Homo sapiens: one gene and its partner. The protein of the gene in region 2 purifies or fractionates together with the protein of the main gene of each other region. This does not show direct contact. Each region holds a gene or a part of one and is shown on either strand. Other genes may lie near its edges. The genes, in order: SEC24D and PLEKHA3.

Evidence for each region.
Region 1: the proteins of PLEKHA3 (region 2) and SEC24D purify together in Homo sapiens (affinity purification with mass spectrometry; one large-scale study listed by BioGRID and IntAct). This does not show direct contact.

The regions. Positions count from the first base shown.
Region 1 is NC_000004.12:118,829,445-118,833,265, forward strand, and holds part of SEC24D (protein transport protein Sec24D), read right to left. Parts: intron 1-3,821. UniProt on the Homo sapiens protein: Component of the coat protein complex II (COPII) which promotes the formation of transport vesicles from the endoplasmic reticulum (ER).
Region 2 is NC_000002.12:178,493,839-178,497,659, reverse strand, and holds part of PLEKHA3 (pleckstrin homology domain-containing family A member 3), read right to left. Parts: intron 3,808-3,821; coding exon 3,671-3,807; intron 2,165-3,670; coding exon 2,000-2,164; intron 1-1,999. UniProt on the Homo sapiens protein: Plays a role in regulation of vesicular cargo transport from the trans-Golgi network (TGN) to the plasma membrane.

The DNA of each region.
Region 1 (3,821 bases), on a different chromosome or scaffold from region 2:
AAGGCTGCAGTGAGCTATAATTTCGTCACTGCAATCCAGCCTGAGTAACAGAGCAAGACCTTGTCTCTTTAAAAAAAAGTGTTAGGGGCCAGGCGCGGTGGCTCATGCCTATAATCCCAGCACTTTGAGAGGCCGAGGCGGGTGGATTACCTGAGGTCGGGAGTTTGAGACCAGCCTGACCAACACAGAGAAACCCCGTCTCTACTAAAAATACAAAATTAGCCGGGTGTGGTGGCGCATGCCTGTAATCTCAGCTACTCAGGAGGCTGAGGCAGGAAAATCGCTTGAACCTGGGAGGCGGAGGTTGCAGTGAGCCGAGATCGTGCCATTGCACTCCAGCCTGGGTAATAAGAGCGAAACTCCGTCTCAAAAAAAAAAAAGTGTTAGTATACAGCACTAGCTTTACAAAAACACAATGAATAAGCATAAATGGAGATACGATAATGTGAGCAACACAAAGCAAGAGTTAGCACTGGCCAGATCTACAGTGGAATAGATACTTCAAAGAACCACAATAAGTTTGCTTGTGTCTGTCAGGAGACCAATAAAAGCGTCACTAAAAGGCTAGACAAGAAGACACAGGAAGACTGAAGATTAAGGTATCTAAGGTTATTCAGCAGAATATAATCAGAGATATAAGAGCTGGAGTAATTTAGTGAAAGTCTTAAATAATTAAACCAAAACACCACAATATGCATAGAAAGATATATTTGCAGAGAGTATAATAGCCTGGTTATTCACCTGATATTTAATAGCCATTAAGTAAGGAGAAAGCAGTTTAAACTAAAGCATGAAGGATTTAATCCAACAAAGACAGCTTTTAAAAACACTGGTAAGGCCAGGTGCCGAGGCTAACGCCTATAATCTCAGCACTTTGCGAGGCCAAGGCGAGAGGATCACTTGAGCTGAGGAGTTCAAGACCAGCCTGGGAAACATAGGGAGATCCCATCTCTACCAGCTACTTGGAAGCTAGGCAACAGAGCAAAACCCTGTCTCAAATAAATTAATTAATTTAATTTAATTAAATATTGGTAAATACCAGAGTGTTTTGCTAATGAGTGCTACAGTTTGTCATCCACTTCATTGAATAAACATTTATAATTAGCTCAATTTAACCATTCCACAGTGTATACATATTTCAAAACAATATGTTGTACATTATATATATATGTATATATAATTTTTTATTTGCCAATTAAAATTTTTTTTTTTAAAAACAGCCATGAGTGCCTTCTCTGCTCCAGGAACATCTACTATAGGAACATCTATTATAACACAGTATGGCAAATAGTATAGAGGCCTGAAAAAGTATTAGAATACAAAAGAATTCAAATTAGATTTGCATGGTATAAAAAAATCCCTCTGGCTCAGGAGTTGATGGTTTGGAAAAAGACAGTATTGGAGAGAGGGATAATAGTTACAAGATCATTTTAGTAATCCATGTGAGAGATGGATGGATTGAACAAAAAGAGTGACAGGAGAATGGAAAGGAGAAAGCAGGTAGGAAAGCTGTTTACAATCACTCCAAAAAGATTTGGGAGACCGATTACATTGGAGGAGATAAAAAGGAGGGAGAGGTTTTTTTGCTTGTTTGTTTGAGAGAGTCTCACTCTGTTCCCCAGGCTGGAGTGCAGTGGCGTGATCTTGGCTCACTGCAACCTCCATCTCCCTGGTTCAAGCGATTCTCATGCCTTAGCCTCCCAAATAGCTGAGATTACAAGCATGTGCCACCATGCCCAGCTAATTTTTATCTTCTATTTTTTTAGTAGAGACCGGGATTCACCATGTTGGCCAGGCTGGTCTCAAACTCCGGGCCTCAAGTGATCCACTTGTCTTGGTCTCCCAAAGTGTTAGGATTACAGGTGTGAGCCACCACACCCCACCAAGTTTTGTTTTTTTGTTTTTTTAATAAAGTTTCTGGTATGGATCACGAAATAAATGATGCTAATGAGTGAGATTTGAAATGCCAGAAAACATAGGCTTCCATGATGAATATGGAATTGTTTTGGGCATGGTGACTGTGACGTGCCTCAACAAAGGTGGGCAACTGGAAATATGGGTCTAGAGCAAGCTTTTCCAACCCACGGCCCACACGCAGCCCAGGACAGCTTTGAATATGGCCCAACACAAATTTGAAAACTTTTTTAATCCATTATGAGATTTTTTTGATTTTTTTTTTTTTTAGCTCATCAGCTATTGTTAGTGTATTTTATGTGTGGCCCATGACAATTCTTCTCCCAGTGTGGCCCAGGAAAGCCAAAAGACTGGATACCCCTGGTCTAGAGCTTAGGGGAGGCATCTGGGCTGGAGAAATAGATCTGAGAGACAAGCACTTTCTGTGAATGATCCAGCTTAGGGAAAAATCTACAGAGTGGGATAACAGTAGTGAAGATGGAACATGGAGGGAGAAACAGCAACACTTAAGAGTCATGTAGAAGAATTCCTTCAAAAGAAATGTCCAGAAAGCAACCCAAAAAAATGGGCACAATGGCTCACACCTATAATTCCAGCACCTTGGGAGGTGGAGGCGGGTGGATCACGTGAGGTCAGGAGTTCGAGACCAACCTGGCCAACATTGTGAAACCCCGTCTCTACTAAAAATACAAAAATTACCCAGGCATGGTGGCGGGCGCCTGTAATCCCAGCTACTCAGGAGGCTGAGGCAGGAGAATCACTAGAACCCAGGAGGCTGAGGCAGGAGAATCACTAGAACCCAGGAGGCGGAGGTTGCAGTGAGCTGAGATCGCAAAACTGCACCCCAACCTGGTCGACAGAGGGAGACTCCACCTCAAAAGACAACAACAAAAGGATAGTGTCATTGAAACCAAAGGAGAAAAGAGTTTTGTAAAAATGAGAGTGGTAAACAGAGTCAAATACAAAAGAGGACAGACAGCACAATGTCTACTGCATTGAGAAATAGGACACTGATAGTCCTGGTGAGGGAAGTGAAAGTGTGGATGGGGTGGCAAACTATGGAGTGTAAACTATGCTGAGCCATGGAGGGAAGGAGAGGTAAAGGTGGAGATTACCAAGCATAGTGAGTACTTTCTCAAGAAGATGCCTGTGAAGAGGGAAGGGTGAATAATATAGAGTGTTATACTTAGGTGTGTATGCAATTTGTTTTTTGCCTTCTTGAGAGATCTGGGTATGAATCCTGGTGCTACTACTTGCTGTCTGTGACCTTAGACAAGTCACATGACACCAGACATTCAGTTTTCCTAGCTGCAAAAATAACTTACTGCATAGCATTGTATGAGGATTAAATAAGACAATACAGGAAAAGCTTTTAGGGCCAGATTTCGACACATCATAAAAAGGAATAATTTATAATTATCATTATAAATAAATGCTGAGGAGAAATGAACCACCAGTTAGAAACTGAAGGGGTTAATGGTTTCTACAGGATCCAGTAAGGCAAGATTACAAACATTCTGGAGAGGATGGTCCTGAACAAGAAGAGGGATGCTTCATCTGGACATCTTTAAAATCTCGGGAAGAATAAATCATAAGACTGACTTTCCACAGGAAATTCACAATCTCAGAGCATCTTCTGCAGCACACTGTGTGTGGCTGCTAACATCAAGCCTCACTAAAGGGAGTCCTCACCCCTTGCTGATTCTGCACTATATACATTCTACCTAGCACAGCCTGGATCCCAGATATCTAAGCTAGTTCCAGTGAGCCCTGAGAGTTACTCATTGATTTATACATGGTCCATTTGTACAAAGAATTGTACAAAGAATTATCCTCACATGATGTACAGATTTATCTAGGGCCAATCCTAGATAAGGATATGTGAATTTAATTCATTTATAAATTTA
Region 2 (3,821 bases):
TCACACATACTTGTTAATTAACAGTTTATAGCATATCTACAATTGTCCTAAAAAGCAACATTGTCAAACTATGTTTTACTCAACACCACACCACAGTCCTGTAAGATGGTATTAAAAAATACATAAAATGGGCCAGGCGCAGTGTCTCACGCCTGTAATCCCAACACTTTGGAAGACTAAGGCGGGCAGATCACGAGGTCAGGAGATCGAGACCATCCTGGCTAACATGGTGAAACCCCGTCTCTACTAAAAATACAAAAAATTAGCTGGGCATGGTGGCAGGCGCCTGTGGTCCCATCTGCTCAGGAGGCTGAGGCAGGAGAATGGCATGAACCCAGGAGGCGGAGCTTGCAGTGAGCTGAGATTGCGCCACTGCACTCCAGCCTGGGCGACAGAGCAAGACTCCATTTCAAAAAAAGAAAATATATACATATATAGTATTTATATATATATTTATTTTATTTGTGTATATATATAACGGGCTCAATTGTCAAATAAATTTCAGCAACACTGTACACTACACTTCCACCTCTCAGAGATTCATAATACACTTCAGCATAAAAGAGGGTGTGACGGCTGGGCATGGTGGCTTATGCCTGTAATCCCAACACTTTGGGAGGCTGAAGCAGGAGGACTGCTTGAAGCTAGGAGTTTGAGACCAGCCTGGGCAACAAAATGAGACTCCATCTCTACAAAAAATAAATTTAAAAACTTAGCTTGAAGCCAGGAGTTTGAGACCAGCTTGGGCAACAAAATGAGACCCCCCCCATCTCTACAAATAATAAATTAAAAAACATAGCCAGGCACCGTGGTGTGCACCTGTAGTCCCAGCTACTCAGGAGGCTGGAACTTGGGAGTTTGAGGCTGCAGTGAGTTATGATGGTGTCACTGCACTCCAGCCTGGGTAACAGAGTGAGACCCTGTCTCTAAAAAAATAAATAAATAAATAAGTAAAAAGGCTGTGACAAGTCCCATCAAACCCAATTCATATCATTTAAGTTAACCTAGCAATTCCCAAATTAATCTGGCCATAAAACTCATTTTCATGGTACGCTTGCCTCAGAGGAAACTATTAGCCCATCAAATACTGATTAGAAAACAATTCTCTAAATAAATCTAGGCAATAATCTTTACTAAATCTCATAACTAAATTTGCTGGGATAGGTAAGAGAACCTAGGAAGAAGTTAGACCCTATTCTCCTAACAAATAGATCTTCAGGTAATTGCTGAAACAGCAACAAGGTGGCATTCTTACTCCTATAAATGGACTCCTAAAAACACTTTGATGCAATAAACTTGAAGTCTCATTAAAGCTTATCTCACCTACAAATTTCTAACAGCATGCTAGAGCAAATTTATTAGCTCAGAAAGGACAACGAATCTGCCACCCCTGGCAAAAAGAGGACTTGTTCTGAGCAATAAGGAAGTAAGAAACTAACACTGAGCACCTAACAGTAAGCAGGTCAGATCGTTTGCAGTGACTCTCTGATATACACTGTATTTTTACACATGAAGAAACTGAAGATCAGCTACTCTGAGGGTTCAGATCCAAATGCTTAGTAGAGAATACCGTTCCCACCGGAATATGTTTCAAATTCCTTCTAACTCCTTTAAAGATATACGTAATTGTACCCCATTGTGACTAAAATCTCATTCCATTGTGTAATTCTTACCAAGCAGAATAGAGCTCCCCAACTTTTTCTTTGTCACAGCACTTTGTAATATTTTCCTAGACACTGGGGAAAATGGATGAAGCAGCCTGTGGGCAGGCCATGCACAGCCCCTCCAAGGAGAAGGGAATGAGGACACTAGCACAAGTGCTCAGCTCATCAGCTAAGAAGCTCGAATATGAAACAGTACAAACAAAAAAATTCAACTTGTTAGCTGTTCCCCGCCCCCCAACTGCCTGCTTCCACCCTTAAAAATAAATACCAAAATGAAACGAAAACCACATGCAACATTACTACTGAGGGAAAAAACCAAAACAAGAAGTTCAAACCATTTGAACAGGAGAAGGTGACACAGGAGAAACTAAGGGATCCGGATGGTGCAGTTGAAACATCTCAGGTTTAAACTTGGCATTGGCTATCTTCACACATTCCTCAAGCGTTGTGATGAATGTGTTACACGTGGCACTAAGCAGAGAAGAGGCTTCATTCATGTTCTGAAAAATTACACAAAGACTTGAACAGATTTGCATACAACTACATGGAATCATATACAACCTTATCATTAAATAATAAGACATCTCCAACAGACACATTACTATGTTATGTTCAAATTTATTTAAAATACAGTACCTTAGAAAATTAAGCTGGGGCAAAAAAAGAAAAAAGAAAACATTAAAACATCTATGTATAAGAAATGCCTGTCTCCTAAACAATGTATGAAACTAGATTCTAAGAAAAAATAAGCTTTGCATTTAATTATCATATTGAAAAACTGTGTACAAAAGTTTATCTTAGAGAAATCTAACCTAAACAGTAATTTTCACTTTCCCAAAAGTGGACACAGACATGGAATACCCTTAGAGTTAATTAGTGGCAGTACAATTCATGCCTACCCTCTATCCATTCTCCCACTTCTTCCTTGATAGAGTAAAAAGCCCAATTTTGTTCAGGATCGCAAAGTGCCCTGATCCTGGGGGATGAATAGAGACTGATCTAACCTAGTCATGGCTATTCCAACACTCTTTACTAAATGCTCATTTTTTCCTAGTTTCCTTTGAGCCGGAAAAAAAAAAAAAAAAAAAAGATGAGAAGTTGGCTAGGGAATTTCTGGGATTTTTGTTTCCCGATTCAAAACCAAGCACAGCAAGTTGAGAAGGACTCTCTCTACCCTGGCAACCCCACTGCCTCCTGCCTCTTTGTGAGCTTGACAGTCATCTTGACACCTGGGGCATTAGGAGAAAAACTCAACACACCAAGAATGGCAGAGTGGAAGGATGGAACAAGCCTGGGTCCCTAATACTGTCACTGAGCTGCTGTAGCAAGTGTGAGGTCAACTACCTCCAGGGAGCTTGTGGTCAGTTTGTCCTTGGGCTTCTTACACAAGATTCCTCCCCAACAGGAGAAGGCCACAGAAGAAATAGGAAGATTTCTTGCCCCACTTCTACCAAGTTAGGCAAAAAGGGACAGGCAACATGCTGGCCTTTCACCCAGAGAGTGGTATAGCTCACTGGTCCTATTTTACCATGAAGAATGAGCCTATTATAGCCCGATCCTACTAATCTGAGTTTTGATTCCTAAGTCACTGTTCTGAGAAGGATTTGTTTTAAGTTATTTCATAAAGATAAGTTATCAACTCTCATAGTTGAAGCAGGGACCTTATTACCAAAAAAAGAGAATAGCAGCTGTCCAGTGAATTTATGCCGCTAGCCTGGAGAACAAAGCCTGGAATGCTTCTTCCCCACTCCAACCTCCAAATTATCAGACTGGCTGCAAAGACAAGCCTTGACCCCTGGAGAAATATGCTACTTCATGTTCTTCTCTGGCCACACAGACACAATCGAGAAGATGCTACAGATTTCCAGATAGTATACAGTAGGCAGAACCCAGAAAAGCTGAAAATAACTCAATGTGAAAATGCCTGTCATCTTATGGAATGACTGAGGATCCCCCCAGAGTACTCCAAAGCATAACCACACGTGAAGAGATCCTCTTCGCTCTACCTCTGCACTAGGAGATGAATGATTCTCATCATGGTGAACAAATTCCTGTATTGTATGAACTTGCTGCATTAAGAGGTCACAGTAGAGGCGAAGTTCAGACATTTTGGTTTTCAGCGATTCACTGGTTTCACTTATTTCTGAAAAGAATATA